2 separate regions of the Homo sapiens genome follow, and region 1 is linked to region 2. Evidence: fine-mapped expression QTL. Tissue or cell type: whole blood. Region 2 holds a variant in brackets; the other region holds the start of a gene. All regions are shown on one strand. Distances are between the middles of the regions.

Evidence for each region. PIP is the estimated chance that this variant, and not a neighbour inherited with it, causes the effect.
Region 1: it holds the start of PPARD, and the variant in region 2 is fine-mapped to the expression of PPARD in whole blood (TOPMed, PIP 0.95).

The regions. Positions count from the first base shown.
Region 1 is chr6:35,339,530-35,347,529 of GRCh38, reverse strand. It overlaps PPARD (peroxisome proliferator activated receptor delta), which reads right to left and starts at 4,972. Exons shown (of 8, transcript NM_006238.5): 1 at 4,849-4,972; 2 at 380-463. RefSeq lists silencers at 4,511-4,560, 4,591-4,730, 4,911-5,120.
Region 2 is chr6:35,313,357-35,321,699 of GRCh38, reverse strand. DEF6 (DEF6 guanine nucleotide exchange factor) reads right to left here. Exons shown (of 11, transcript NM_022047.4): 6 at 3,701-3,809; 7 at 3,229-3,527; 8 at 2,010-2,176; 9 at 1,683-1,881; 10 at 726-816; 11 at 1-513. The coding sequence ends at 290. Among named protein-coding and RNA genes, the nearest start is that of DEF6, 20 kb to the right of the region's middle. The variant G/A (reference allele first, on the strand shown) is at 4,228.

The sequences.
Region 1 (8,000 bases), 26 kb before region 2:
GTACCCATATAGGCAAAGACGAAAGTTCGTTCATTTACTCATTCAACAAAAATTTATTCATTATCTCCTCTGTGCCAGGCACTATCCTAGACACAACAGGCAGCAAAACAACTCCCTGCCCTGTGGAGTTTATCTTTTAATGGGCGCAAAGGTGGGAATCTCCATGCTCCTGAAAAAACTATGTAAGCCATAGACTTTCAATAATTACTTAATAAATGCCTATACTATGCATAAGCAACTGGTACCAGATGCTGTGACAGGAACCTGGAATCTGGGAATAAGCCCTAGTGAAATTATTTCATCTTCAAGGTCAGGATCTTAAATCTGGATCCTGTGTCAGTGGTGGTCAGAGACCCCTGAGTAAAGAAAATGGGATTACCTCGTTGGTGCATCTGTCTTCATCTGTTGGTGAGCAGAAGCCACTGTGTGAGTATCACGTGCATGCCCAAAACACTGTACAACACTGCAGGATAGAAAAAACCCCAACAGCTTTAGCTGACAGGTGCCAGGGGCCCTCAAAGCAACTCTAATAAGTTATACCCACCGTAACTCAAAGAGTGTTCCTAAGGTAATCTGGCTCCTCGTCGGTCCCTTACACACCACCCTGAGATGTGATTCTGAGCCTGAGTCAGCAAATATTTCCCCAATCCTGGAAGGAGTCTGCTCACTCCCAAGTAAGCAGACACTGGCTTTGCTGATTTTATCAGGTCGGCGCAGAAGGCGCAGGCAAGGTAAGAAGGGAGCTGGGTAGAAGCTCATAAATGAAGATGTCCTGAGTCATAGTTGATGCCTTCACCAAAGCCCCTGCAGAATGAACTGGAGTCACATGCCAATCACCAGCCTGCTGAGTTATGAAGGCTAGGAGCCATCTGCCAAGGAAGAAGACCCATATGTCTGAAACCTGATGCAAGGGGCCATGTTCTCCCTGCCAGGCTCAAGGCAAGCTCCAAGGGCTCCTCTGACACCCTGGAATCCAGCTGTTGCAAGCAGCTCCTCACCCTGGCTCCAACGGCAGAGAAAAATGTGCATGGACACCAAACCATCTCCAAGAAGCAGCCATTAGGTAATCTGGGACATGGCATTGACAATGGCACCGGGCACAGGGCTTCTGACATCATATAAGCAAGGGCCTGGCAGAACGGACAAAGCCCACAGAGACCTGGGTAGGGAGGAAGAGAATGTTTCCAGTGTGGGCAATGCTGAGCAGTAAAGCTGTGTCCTGCAATTTCCAAGCCCTTCAGAGGCACTGGAGCAAGGCACCACTGTTCAGCTTCCCAGCCTGCAGAGAGCACTCAGGGAGGTGGGCCTCAGGGACAGGATATAGCTGAAGCCCTTAGAAGTGACAGGTCCAGGCTGGTTGTGGTGGCTCACGCCTGTAATCCCAGCACTTTGGGAGGCTGAGGCGGGCAGATCACGAGGTCAGGAAATCGAGACCATCTCGACTAACACGGTGAAACCCTGTCTCTACTAAAACTACAAAAAAAAATGAGCCAGGCGTGGTGGCGGGCGCCTGTAGTCCCAGCTACTCAGGAGGCTGAGGCAGAAGAATGGCGTGAACCTGGGAGATGGAGCTTGCAGTGAGCCAAGATCGCACCACTGCACTCCAGCCTGGGCGACAGAGCGAGACTCCATCTCAAAAAAAAAAAAAAAAAAAACGAAAAAAAAGTGACAGGTCCAACTCCTGAGAGAGAGGAGCTGCACTATCCCAGGATGTGCCAGAATCTGCAGGCCCTGAAGACAGCTTGCACAACAGTCAGGACAGCTGTAGGCCCAAAGCAGAGGCCTAATGGCTTCCCAGGCTAGTGCTCTACACTGTCTATCCTCTTACCAGGCCCTAAGGGAAGGCGTCTAAGGGACCACAGGTCGGGTTGAAAGGCTGAGTAGGAGCAATTCTTCCTGAATGGGTTAAGGCATATATCACACAAGAAGGCCATGGTGAAGAGGCAAGGAGAAAGGCACCTGAACGAGCAGTCAGTGTAATCTCAGTGCTCTGAGAGGCCAAGGTGAGGAGGACTGCTTGAGGCCAGGAGTTCGAGACATTGTGAGAGCCTGTCTTTACAAAAAAATTGTTTTTTAATTAGCTGAGTGTGGTGGTGTGCACCTGTAGTCCCCGCTACTCTGGAGGCTGAAGCAGGAAGATCCCTTGAGCCCAGGAGTTCGAGGTTACAGTGCACTATGATAGCACCACTGCACTCCAGCCTGGGCAATAGAACAAAACCTTGTGTCAGAAAAGAAAGAAGGAAAGAAAATCCAGACCCAGACTCTGCAAAAATCACTGAATGGGGAAGGAATTTGGTAATTGACAATCATGACTACCTTCTCAGAAAATGAGAGTGGACAAACTGCAAGAAGCTATCCATCTAGGGCTGCTGGTGCCCAAGCTGCTCCACAAGGACTGGCCTTGACCTGTTCTCAAATCTCTCACCTGCCACCACAGCAGAGAGCACTACTAAGGGGTAAGCACGGCCAGAAGTAACAAACTGCTCAAAAGAGTAAGGAGGAGTCCTTGAAAGCCAGAGACTAGACTAAAAATCTGTCCAACACTTGACCTCTACCTCTTTAGAATGATCCACTAAAACCCTGGAGAGATGCTATTCACAGGAACAAGGAAAACCCTCTGGTCCAGTCTACCCAAATCTTTGCAAGTGCTGCAAAGGGGGTCTGGGGGTCAGTGGAGAAGGGACTGGCTCAACAACAGGCCATCCACAATCCTATTGCTTTCACAGAAAACAGTGTACAAGAGGATTACAAAACTTTAAAGTCTGGTCAAGCTGGTTCCTTTGGCTCTCCACCGCAGCTCCTAAAGGTTGCCAACTCCCATGTCCAATCTGGCTCAAAGACAGCACAATCATCAAAAGAGGAGCCCCTAGAAACCTGGGGCCAGGTGAAACAATGAGCCTTCATTTCTAAACATGAGAGTGGGTCACGCTTTCAGAATCCTCCAAGATCAGACTGGGTAGAAACAAAGGATATGTTATTTCTTGAATACTTCTTTAGAGAACCAACGCCAAATAAAGGAGCTCAAACTGAAGGATATGACGAGAATCTTCTGCTTGGTAAGGTTAAACATCCAGACACACATGGAAGGTGGTGGGCTCTCAAGCCCCAGAGAAGATGATCTATGTGACTGGAAGCAGATGTGTCTGCTCAAGTTCCTGACAAGGTCTAACTACTGCAGCCCCACAGCCCACCAGGGTAGTTATCAATCTGATACCTCATACTATGCCTGGGCAAAGGGAACAGAGCTCTGGGATTGCCGTTCCTCCTGGATACAGAGGAAATTAAGCTCCCAGGGAAAAAGAGGGACAATTTGGATTCCCTAGATTCAGAAAAGAACAAAGAAAAAAGAGGGAGAAGAGACTCCAAGAGAACATGTTCAGTGACCAACATCAGAGGCACATTCAGTTGGCCAAAGATTGTCAAAGAGATATGAGAGAAAATCAGCAGCTGTTTCAAGCCACCAATAATAAAAGGGGACAGATGCCCGCCAGCCCCAGGGCTATCAGGCCAGCAATCTATTTCAAAACTCAAACGGGAAAAAAAAAAGTTCTGGAGCCAGTACACAGAAAAAAGGTTGAGGACCACAAGTATTTTCTGGAGCACAGCTTCTGGAGAATTCTCTTAGTCCTTTCGGATGGAGCACAGGGTGGAGGGTGGGAGTGAGGGCAGAGAGAGGCTGGGGTATCATGGTATAAGTGTATTCCACACATCCAGAGTGGAAAGACACAAAACCCCGGTTCCTGGAAGGGGAAAAGAATTGGACAAAGCCTCCGGCTACCCGTGGCACACATCCAGCTCAGCGCCGTCTCCCCCAAGGGTTCCTGGAAGTCAACAGCCCCATAAAGGGGAAGTATTAAAGCTGAGATAAGAAGAATGGCCTACAAATTGGACATCATCTCTGATGCAACACCCACGTACATTCTCCCACACAATCTGTTATTTCCTTTAGTCAATCAGCCTCTTAATTCGATCAAGGTCTGAACACCTCCACCCCCACCCCATGGTTATGTCAACTGCAGGTCAAGTGAAAGTAGAGTAGAGTGTGGAGCTAAGGCTTCTCCCTGAAGCAGGGGAAAGGAACAGGGAGAGAAAAGGAGGTGGGCGACAGGAATGTAGGGGACAGAATTGATACGAAGGAAATCGGAAAAAGGAGCAAAAACAGGGCCTCTCAGGGAACCAAGGTGAGAGTCTTAGGGAGACAGGGACTGCAGGCACGGAGTTGGAAAAAGCCTAGGAACACCCTGGGGAAGAGGATGGGGACCCATAATACTAGGAGGGATCAGACCACAGATAAGAAGGGGACAGGGATGGGGAGAGAGAGTAAAGCCTGAGAGAGCAAGGATGGGAGGATGAAGGCAGGAGACAAGGATAACGAGGGGGACAGAGGAAAAGATCCCAGAGAAGACTCTCGCTAGATAGGGCAGTGGATTCAGGAACACCAGAAACGGGTGAAGGAAGAGGTCAGAGGCAGGGGAGGGGAATGGGAGAGGCCCCCGGGCCTGAGACGGGGTTCTCACAAGTGGGAGAAGACGAAGCCACCAGGCCCAAGAGGGGGCAAAGAGTAGGGTGGAAGGAGGCCCGTATTTCGGACTCACTCAAGCAGCTATGGGGGTCCAAGGGCGGGGGGGCGCAGGGTCAGCGGGGCGCCTACATGGCAACGCACGACGGCTGACCGGAGCGGGCCGGAGCATCAGGAAGCCGCCGTGACGCTGTCCGCGGACCCCGGCAGCTCCCCGCACCCCGTTCCCCGCCGCCGGGCCTTGCGCCCCAGTCCCGCTGGCCGCCTCGGCCCAGGCCCGGCGCTTCCCTCCGCCACTTGCCTGACCGCTTCTCTCGTCTCGGACTGACCTGTCCCGGCTGCCTACGGCGCCACCGCCGCCGTCCCGCAGGCTCCGCAGAATTCTCCCGCTCCTGCCAAAACTTTTCCCATTAATCCCCAGGTCCGCGGCGGCCGCAGCGTCACACGCTCCGCGGCCCGGCCCCGCCCCCGCCAGCGAGACGTCACCGCGCTGCTCGGCCTTTCCCTCCCCACGCCCCCTTCCGCCCGGCGGCGGCCAATCACCACGCCTCCTGGAGACTCCCCTAATTCTGCCTCTCCGCCCACCGCACGCTGCCCCGGGCCAGCCTGTGGCGCCCTCTGGTGCGGGATGCGGACGTAGCAGCTAAGGGAGGAGCAGGGGAGCGCCAGGTCCAGTAGAACAAGTCCAGCAAGTGACACAAGAGGGAATTTAAAGCTGGAAGGGAATTTCTAGGTCATCTAGTGCAACCTCCTCATCTTCCAGTGAAGAAACTTAGTCCTAGAAAAGGTACGTGACTTGCAGTGACAAGTCTGGAGAGACTCTTAACCCAGTGCTAGGTCCACTGGAGGAGATCATATCGCCTATAATTTTCAAAAAAGGGCTTTCCGCCTTCAAGAGGCTTCTACAACTGGAAATTTACGGTCTTAGAGTTCTTAACCTTTCTTCCCATGTGCTTATGCAATACGCTTATTCACCTAAAATAGGGGACATCCTCCTTATTGTTGTAGAAAATTCTGTTCTTATTAATCCACATCTTTAAGACCTGGAAGGGACCTATTATCCCAACCTACCGCTTAAGATGTACCACAGGAAACTACCTAGCAGCTGGGAGGCAATCTGGTGGAAGAAGTTGGCTTTCATCTGACGATGAACAAAGCTTGACTCTCAGGTATATGACCAATGCCTCCCCTCCATCATCATTAAAGATGACCCCTCCCCTCTCCTTCGGCCACACCTTCCGTAGGCCGCAAGCTCCTTAGGCCACACCTAGCTATCTGGATGAGTGATTTTTTTTTTTTTTTTTTTTTTTGAGACACAGTTTCACTCTGTCGCCCCTGCTGGAGTGCAGTTGCGCAATCTCAGCCCGCTGCAACCTCCGCCTCCCGGGTTCAAGCGATTATCCTGCCTCAACCTCCCAAGTAGCTGGGATTACAGGCATGCGCCACACGCCCAGCTAATTATTGTAATTTTAGTAGAGACAGGGTTTTGCCATGTTGCCCAGGCTGGTCTTGAACTCCTGGACTCAAGTTATCCTCCCACCTTAGCCTCCCAAAGTGCTGGAATTACAGGCGTGAGCCACCGTGCCTGGCAGGGATGAGTGATTTTTTCCCCCTTCTTTCTGCTTCTCTTTTTCTTTTTCTTTTTTTTCCCCTACTTTTTGAAATGCTTGTGCATTATATTTGTAACTTAGATGTCAACCTCCTTGCCCTTTGAGATTGAGGTAAAAATGGACGGTGAAAGTCAGAGTCCCTCCCTTAACATATTTGCAAATATCTGGGGATTTATATTCTCCTAAATATCTCTGCCTCTGGGTTTCTGCTTTTGCCAGGCTGTTGCGTACCACAGTTCAGAAGTCTGGAGAGGAAACTCAGCTCTCCCTAAGGACTGCCCGCACCCTTCCCACACAAAACATTGACGAGTACAAAGACATTAGGGTACTCTGGGCCCTGGGGGAGGTCATATGATACATGGCAAACAGTTTAAACTCACCCCTCAGAAGTTTTTTTTTTTTTTTTTTCCCAAGGCAGAAGAATTTTTCTTAGTGCAGAACAAAATGAGAAGTCTCCCATGTCTACTTCTTTCTACACAGACACGGCAACCATCCGATTTCTCAATCTTTTCCCCACCTTTCCCGCCTTTCTATTCCACAAAGTCGCCATTGTCATCCTGGCCCGTTCTCAATGAGCTGTTGGGCACACCTCCCAGACGGGGTGGTGGCCGGGCAGAGGGGCTCCTCACTTCCCAGTAGGGGCGGCCGGGCAGAGGCGCCCCTCACCTCCCAGACGGGGCGGCTGGCCGGGTGGGGGGCTGACCCCCCTACCTCCCTCCCGGACGGGGCGGCTGGCCGGGCGGGGGGCTGACCCCCCACCTCCCTCCCGGACGGGGTGGCTGCCGGGCGGAGACGCTCCTCACTTCCCAGATGGGGTGGCTGCCGGGCGGAGAGGCTCCTCACTTCTCAGACGGGGCAGCTGCCGGGCGGAGGGGCTCCTCACTTCTCAGACGGGGTGGTTGCCAGGCAGAGGGTCTCCTCACTTCTCAGACGGGGCGGCCGGGCAGAGACGCTCTTCACCTCCCAGACGGGGTCGCTGCCGGGCAGAGGCGCTCCTCATATCCCAGATGGGGCGGCGGGGCAGAGGCGCTCCCCACATCTCAGACGATGGGCGGCCGGGCAGAGACGCTCCTCACTTCCTAGATGTGATGGCGGCCGGGAAGAGGCGCTCCTCACTTCCTAGATGGGATGGCGGCCGGGCGGAGACGCTCCTCACTTTCCAGACTGGGCAGCCAGGCAGAGGGGCTCCTCACATCCCAGACGATGGGCGGCCAGGCAGAGACACTCCTCACTTCCCATACGGGGTGGCGGCCAGGCAGAGGCTGCAATCTCGGCACTTTGGGAGGCCAAGGCAGGCGGCTGGGAGGTGTAGGTTGTAGTGAGCCGAGATCACGCCACTGCACTCCAGCCTGGGCACCATTGAGCACTGAGTGAACGAGACTCCGTCTGCAATCCCGGCACCTCGGGAGGCCGAGGCTGGCGGATCACTCGCGGTTAGGGGCTGGAGACCGGCCCGGCCAACACAGCGAAACCCCGTCTCCACCAAAACCAGTCAGGCGTGGCGACGCGTGCCTGCAATCGCAGGCACTCGGCAGGCTGAGGCAGGAGAATCAGGCAGGGAGGTTGCAGTGAGCCGAGATGGCAGCAGTACAGTCCAGCTTCGGCTCCGCATGAGAGGGAGACCGTGGAAAGAGAGGGAGACCGTGGGGAGAGGGAGCGGGGGAGGGGGAGGGGGCCCCTCAGAAGTTTTTAGAAGTCCTTTCCACACCCCCAGCTGAGGTTTTCTAACTGGCCCTGCACCCTCTAGCCTCCTCCAAAATCACTAACTCTCCCTCCTGCCCCACCATTCTCTCCTCTGTCCCACCCTCTCTGGAGAAAACACAAATTCCTCTGGCTTTCTACGGAGAAAGAGAAAGCGACATTTTAACCGT
Region 2 (8,343 bases):
CGGCTTGCTTGTTCTCTCTTTCCTAGCCCAAGAATCGGGTCCTTGGGTCTAAAGCACAGGGCCAAGTTCTCAAGGATCAACATCCCAGACAGCTCCCATGGTCTGGGGCTTGGAGCTGGTATGAAGGGTGAACCAGGTTCCATCCTGGACTGTTTATGGTTGGAGGGCCTGGGCCCCTGGCACCAGGACCTCAGCTCCCTCTCCTAGTAAGAGCTGGGATCACCCACAGGCCAGCTGTGGCCAGGTCCTGGTGGATATGACATTGGGAAGAACAAGGGGCTAAGAGAGGCTAATTTTCTGGTGCTGGATCCAGTTTATCTTCCTGAGGGGTGGAAGCCGGGGCAGGAGCCTCATCCCCACCATTGAGGGACTTCTGCTGCTCATTGCTGTTGGGCGAGGGGGTCCTGTTGCCCTGGGATCCCCAGCGGGTCAGGCGCTTTAGGGAGGAGTCACGGTGGGCAAGCAGAGGGGGCTGGAAGCCTGAGAAGGAGCTGCTGGTGACCGGACGCTTATCTGGCAGAGAGAAGGCAGGCAAGTAAGGAGAAAGGCATGCAAAGGTGAGAGGCGAGGGGCCTTGCCTCAGCCCTCAGAGGAGAGGGGAGCCTCCTGACTGCCAGTCCTGCTTTTGCTGGCCCTGGGAGATCTGGAGGTCTCCCAGGGAGACCTTTCTCCCTCCTTTCTCCCTCCCAGCTCCAGGGAAAGCTCCAGAGTCTATTCCTTCTCACCTCCAGGCTCAATTGGATGCATCAGCCGGTTCATCTGGACATTCCAGTGTTTCACGTTGGTGCTGGCCTGGCGCAGTTTTCTCTGGGCAGCCTGTGGGGACAGGGCCAGTGGGGAGTGATCAGAACCATCATCCATGGCATGGAGTCTTGATCTTTTCAGGTTCGCAGGCTGCTTAAAATCTGACCAAGACTACTGATCATCTCCCCAGAGAAAAACCATATATGCTCATAGAGTTATTAATACATACATGAATAGAGTTTGCCTCCAATTTCATGGGACTCATGGACTTCCAAAAGATAAAATGTAACCATAATAATAGTTTCCGTTTATTGAGCAGCTAAGATGTGCTAAGCATATTTATTATCTTATTTAACTTCCAGAGCAGAAGTTAACAACAAAAAAGTTCAAAAGAGGTTAAGTGACTTGCCCAGGGATACACTTGAGCTCTAAGCCACTGCACTACACCACCTTTCCAGCACCTAATCCAAGAACCTCTGTTCAACATTTCACGGAGCCATTAGCAGTGGTTGTGAGGTGGGGGGGATCATGGAGGAATTTTCCCTTTCTATGTTCCATATTTCTGTGTTTGAATTTATGGAGATTAAAGCTCCAAGGAGTAGAGCCAAAGTACAAGGATAGCAAGACAGGGGCTTGGAAGGGTAGAAGGAAAAATTTTTCCCCAGATTAATAATGATGTGAACAAAGATAGCAGCAAATGTTTCTTCAGCACTTACTACGTACTAAGTATCATGTATCATCTCATTTAATCTTCATAACAACGCTATTACCAGTTTCCCAGGTGAGAGACTAACTCCAAGAAGTTTGGGCATTTGTCCAAAGTCACACAGCCAGCAGCTGCTAGGGCCAGGGTTTGAGGGAAGGCAGCCTGGCTCCAGAGCCTGTGCCCTAATGAGCTCACCCTGCCAGCCTCCACCCCATCCCACCCCAGGCCTCACCTCCACATCCTCGTCAGCCCTCTGCCGGTTCTGCCGCACCTCCTCCAGCTGCTGCTGGGCCTGCTGCAGGGAGCGGCTCTGCTGTGCCATCTCCTGCTGCAGCTCTTCCTTCTCCTGCTGCGCCCGTTCGATGTAGCGCTCCTGCTCCTCCTTCAGCTGCATCAACTGCTTCAGCTTCTCTTCCTCCTCTTCCAGCAGTCTGCCGGGTGAGTGTGTACTGTGTAGCCTCTAGTGCCAAGGCACCTTGCAGGTGCACAGCAAGCAGGAAAACTGGGGTGTGTTCCAGGAGGGGTGGTGAGAGAACCAGAAGAGGTTCCTCAGGCCTACCTGGTCTGAGCGATTCGCACAGATTCTTCATCTCGCCGAGCTTTCACCTCTAGTTGCAGGGCCTCCTGCAACCGCTGCTGCATCTCCTCCAGCTCCTTGATGCGCTGCCGCTGCCGGGCAGCCTCCTCCTCCTTCAGCTCCATCTCAGCCTGCATGGAGGCCCGGGCCTGTGGAGGGGGGAGGTGGTGGACCAAGAGCCAGGTCAAAAGGGGCACGTGGGGGCGGAGGAGGAGGGGGTGGGCATGTTGCTAAGCTGCCTAGGGGTGAGGGTCTGGGGAACTCCTTCATGTTGGGGTTTCCTGATCTGACCCCTTTCTGAGAGCCTGACTGGAACAGATAATGGTCGGTGAACAGATGCCACGTGGGGGAAACGGGCTCAAGTTATTTCCTTCCTAGTACCAACCTTAATCATAATTATATAACATGTAATTAAACAACATTATATAATTAAATAAGATATAAAAATATGGTCATCTCCTTCCTAGCACTAACTTAATAATTATTATAATATATAATAATATGTTATAATCATGGCTGATGCTAGGAAGGATGTGACTATAACTACAATTATTACAACAAAAAGTTACTGGACACTACAAGTGTTTCCTCATTTAATCCTCACCGTACCTCTGTGAGCAAAGTTCTATTAGCATTAGCATTTTACTGATAAGGCTCAGTAAAATGAACTTGCCTGGGATCACGGGGCTCGTAAGAAGCAGAGCTAGGATTGAATCTACGTGTTTCTGACTCCAGATCCAGGTTTCTTAAATCCTAAATCTAATTGCCTCTGCACACCTAGTCCGCCTCCATACGCGTCCCGCTTGCCTCTCAAACTGGTTTCACTGTAAACTTAGTTCAAGTCTAGTCCAAACTTGGTCCAGTCTAATCCCCAATCACACGGTCTTCAACGGCTCCTTCTGCCCAAGCCCCAACCCACAGCCAAGGTCTCCGAACCAGGCCCCATCCATCCACGGGCTCGGACCTCGCCCCACACCCCTTTCCTAGCCCCAGGTTCTGTCCCTGGCGGAAGCCCCATCCCAAATCTCTTTTTCAAACCCGCGGACTCTGTCCCAACAATCCCTCATTTCAAGCTCCACCCCAGTGCACGCCCCTCAACCCAGGAGCTCCGCCCTCTGCCCAGGCCCCGCCCCCGGCGCTCCGCCCCTGGCCAGCCTCCCAGCCCACCGGTCCCGTCCCCGGCGCCGGGAGCTAACCCCACCTGCTCCGCCTCGCGCAGTTGGCCCTCGAGCGCCTGCTGCAGCTCGCGGTGCTGGCTGCGGCGCCGTTCCTCCTCCTCCTGCAGCAGCCGCTCGGCCTGCCGCTGCGCCTCCTGCAGCAGCTCCAGCTCCTGCAGCTTCCGCTCCTTCTCCTCCTGCAGCTGCTGCAGCCGCAGCAGCTCCTCTTCCTTGGCCGCCCGGCGCCGCTCCCGCTGCTCCCGCTGCTCGCGCCGTTTCTGCTTCAGGTCCTTGTGTAGGGACGTCTTCCCCTCGGCCTGCAGCCGGATCGCCATCTGGATGGCTGCCGAAGAGCGGGAGCGGGTCAGTAGGATCCTCGCACACGGCCCGAAAGGGGCCTTAGGAGTTTCCCGAGTCCACTCTCCAACCTCCCGCTGGACAAAGTATTATCACCCCCTTTTCACAGATGAGGCGCCTAAGGACCACCCAGACCCAAGCCACCTAGCGAGCACTCACCAGCTGTCCACTCCTGGCGCTGGCGCGTGTCTGAGGCGCTCATCTCATACGTGCGGTTGGCTGTCTTCACACAGAACATGCAGCGCTTTCCGTCGCGGTCTGGCAGCACCTGGCACAGGGTAGGTGGCCGCAGCCAGGCTGGCCTCACTGGGTCAGGGCCCCACCTGCCCCAAGGGTGCTCCAGCTCAAGCCCCTAGCCCTCCTGGCTATCTTCCCTGGGGACCCCACTCTGCCAGGAGCCTGCATGGCTTGCATCATAAGTTATGGGGGACTTAAGTCCCCACAACTCTGTAGCCTTTGCTCTTTGAAGGCTAGGTGGGTGCGTTTCCATCTTGCTATTATTCCACGGGGCCCAGTACATAATCGCCACTCAGTGTTTATGCAGATCACGCTTGAACACTGCCAGTAACAGGGTCCTCACTATCCATGACAACTCACTTCCACATAGCCCTGCTTGTTAAGAGTTCATTCATTCATTCCGCAGATGTTTTTGGAGTGCCTACTGAGTGCCACTCACTGCTCCAGGG[G/A]TTGGGATACTAAGGTGTGCCTAACAGACCAAATCTCTGCCTCCATTAAGTTTACATTCTGTGGAAAATAATAGCTACCACATTCTAGAGTCTGTACTAGTATTTTATATGCATCATTATCTTCACTCCACCTATACAGCTTTGCCAGGCAGGCATTATTAGCTCCACTTTACAGAGAAAGAAACTGAGGCACTAAGAGCTCCAGGATTGTCCACCTCACACTGTTAGTCTGTTAGTGATGAGGCTTGGACTTCTGCGTAGATCCGTGCTCCTTTCCACAGTAACACCTTATGTGACAAAATTAGACAGATCCTAGGATGGCTATGATAATTTTTTAAAAGGAAAAACAACTGTTGGTAAGGAAATGGAGAAACTGAGATCCTCACACACTGTTAGGGATATTATCCAGCCTTAAAAAGGAATGAAATTCTGATATATTTGACAACATAGATGAAGCCTGAAAACATTTCTAAGTAAAAGAAACCAGACACAAAGGGACAAATATTTTATGATTCTATTTATGTAAGATACCTAGAAAAGGCAAATTCATGGAGACAGAAAGCAGAATAGAGGATACTAGGAGCTGGGGTCAGGGAGTATGAGGAGTTATTGCTTGGTAGGTACAGAGTTTCTGTTTGGTGTGATGAAAAAGTTTTGGAAATAGATAGTGGTGATGGTTGTACAATATTGTGAGTATAGATCTTTCACCATGATCAGATGGGATTCATCCCAGGGATGCAAGGATGGTTCAACATGCACAAATCAATATGCATGACACATCATAGTAACAGAACCAAGAGCAAAAACCATATATGATCATTTCAATAGACCCTGAAAAAGCTTTCTAAAAAAATTCAACATCGTGTTATAAAAGCCCTAAAATATTGGGTATAGAGGCAACATACCTTAAAATAATAAACGCTATCTATGACAAACTCACAGCTAACATTGTAATAAATGGAGAAAAATTGAAAGCCTTTCCTCTAAGATCTGGAACAAGACAAGGATGCCCACTTTTACCACTTTTATTCCATGTAGTATTGGGAGTTCTGGCCAGAGCAATTAGGCAAGAGAAGGAAATGAAGGGCATCCAAACTGGAAATGAAGAAGTCAGATTAGCCTTGTTTGCAGATGGCATGGTCTTCTACTTAGAAAAATCTAAAGACTCCATGGGGCGTGGTGGCTTACACTTGTAATCCTAACACTTTGGGAAGCTGAGGTGGTTGGATTGCTTGAGGCCAGGAGTTCGACACCAGCCTGGGCAATACAGTGAGATCCTGTCTCTCTCTTAAAAAAAAAAAAAAGGCCGGGCACAGTGGCTTATACCTGTAATCCCAGCACTTTGGGAGGCCGAGGTGGGCAGATCATCTGAGGTCAGGAGTTTGAGACCAGCCTGGCCAACACGGTGAAATGCTGTCTCTACTAAAAATACAAAAAAAAAAAAAATTAGCCAGGTGTGGTGGCAGGTGCCTGTAATCCCAGCTAACTTGGGAGGCTGAGGCAGGAGAATCACTTGAACTCGGGAGGCGGAGGTTGCAGTGAGCTGAGATCGTGCCATTGCACTCCAGCCTGGGCGATAAAAGCAAGACTCCTCCTCCTCCTCAAAAAAAAAAAAAAAAAAAAAAGGGACTCCAACAAAAAACCGTTAGAGTTGATGAATGAATTCAGTAAAGTTGCAGGATAATTCAACATACAAAACCCAGTAGCATTTGTATACGCTAACAGCAAACAATCTGAAAAAGAAGTTGAGTGCAATCCCATTTCCAACAGCTACAAAGAATGTAAAATACCTAAGAATCGATGTAACCAAAGTGAAAGATCTATACAAGAAAAACTATAAAACTGATGAAATAAATTGAAGAGGATGCAAAAAAATGGAGAGATATCCCATGCTATGTATTGGAAAAATTAATATTGTTAAAATAACAATATTACCCAAAGCAATTTATAGATTTGGTGCAATCTCTGTCAAAATAGCAAAGGCATTCTTCATAGATATAGAAAAAAAATCCTAAAATTTATACGGAACTACAAAAGACCTCAAATAGCCAAAGTAAGCCTGAGTAAAAAGAACGAAGCTGGAGGCATCACATTTCCTGACTTCAAAATACACTACGAACTGGCCACGGTGGTACACACCTATAGCCCCAGCTATTCAGGAGGCTGAAGCAGGAGGATCCCATGAGCCCAAGGAGACTGAGGCTGCAGTGACCTATGATCATACCACTGCACTCCAGCCTGGACACCAGAGAAAAATCCTGTCTCTAAAATAAAACAAAAAAACAAAATGTAGTACAAAGCTATAGTAACCAAATCAGCATAGTACTGGCATAAAAAGAGACACAAAGACCAATGGAACAGAATAGATAACCTAGATATAAATCCATGCATTTACAGAGAACTCATTTTTGACAAAGGCTCCAGGAACACACAATGGGGAAAGAACAGTCCTTTCAATAAATGGTTCTGGGAAAACTAAATAACCACATGCAGATGAATGAAACTAGACCCCTATCTCTCACCATATAAAAAAATCAAATAAAAATGGATTAAACATTTAAATGTAAGACCTGAAACTATGAAACTACTAGAAGAAAACATTGGAGAAATATTCCAGGACATTGGTCTGGGCAAAGAGATTTTTTGTGGAAGACCTCAAAAGCATAGGCAACCAAACCAAAAATAGAAAAATGGGATTATGTCAAGCTAAAAAGCTTCAGGACAGCCATGGAAACAATCAACAAAGTGAAGAGACAACCCACAGAATAGGAGAAAATATTTGCAAAGTATCAATCTGACGAGGGATTAATAACCAGAATATATAAGGAGCTCAAACAACTCTGTAACAAAAAACCAAATAATCCAGTTTAAAAATGGGCAAAAGATCTGAATAGATATTTCTCAAAAGAAGACATACAAATGGTCAACAGAGATATGAAAAAATGCTCAATGTCACTAATCATCAGAGAAAAGCAAATCAAAATTAAATGAGATATCATTTCATCCCAGTTAAAATGGCTTTTTACAAAAAAAATAGAGAACATCTTTTTTTTTTTTTTTTTTTTGAGATAGAGTTTCACTCCTGTCACCCAGGCTGAAGTGCAATGGTGCAATCTTGACTCACTGCAACCTCCATCTCCAGGTTCAAGCGATTCTCCTGCCTCAGCCTCCTGAGTAGCTGGGATTACAGGCGCCCACCACCATGCCCGGCTGATTTTTGTATTTTTAGTAGAGATGGGGTCTCACCATGTTGGCCAGGCTGGTCTCAAACTCCCAACCTCAGGTGATCCACCAGCCTCGGCCTCCCAAAGTGCTGGGATTACAGGCATGAGCCACTGCGCCTGGCCAAGAATATCTTTTCTGTAAAAAGATGCTGGAGAAGACGTGGAGAAAGGGGAACCCTGATAAACTGTTAGTGGGAATATAAATTAGTACAGCTACTATGGAAAACTGTATGAAGGTTCCTCAAAAAACTAAAAATAGAACTATCATATGATCTAGAAGTTCCACTGCTGGGTATATATCTAAAAGAAAGTAAACCAATATATTGAAGAGATATCTGCCTTCCCATGTTTACTGCAGAGATATTCATAATGGCCAAAATATGAAATCAACCTAAGTGCCCAGAAGTGGATAAATAGATTAAGAAAATGTGATATATATAATATTATTCAGCCATAAAAAGAATGAAATCTTGTCATTTGCAACAACATAGATGGCACCATAGGTCATTTTGTTAAGTGAATAAGCCAAACACAGAAAAACAACTATCGCATGTTCTCACTTACATGTGGGAGCTAAAAAAGTGGATCACATGAAGATAGAGAGTATATTAGTGGTACCAGAGGCCAGGAAGTGTGGGGGGAGGACAAAGAGAGGTTGATGAATGGGTATAAACATACAGTTTGACAGGAAAAATAAGACCTAGGATTCAATAGATCAGTAGGGTGGCTACAGTTTACAATAATCTATTGTATATTTCAAAATAGAAGAGAATAATTTGAATGTTTCTAGCATAAAGAAATATTTGAGGTAAAGGATACCTAATGACATGATTTGATTTTTATAAAATATATGAATGTATTAAATTATCACATGTACCCTGAAAATATGTAC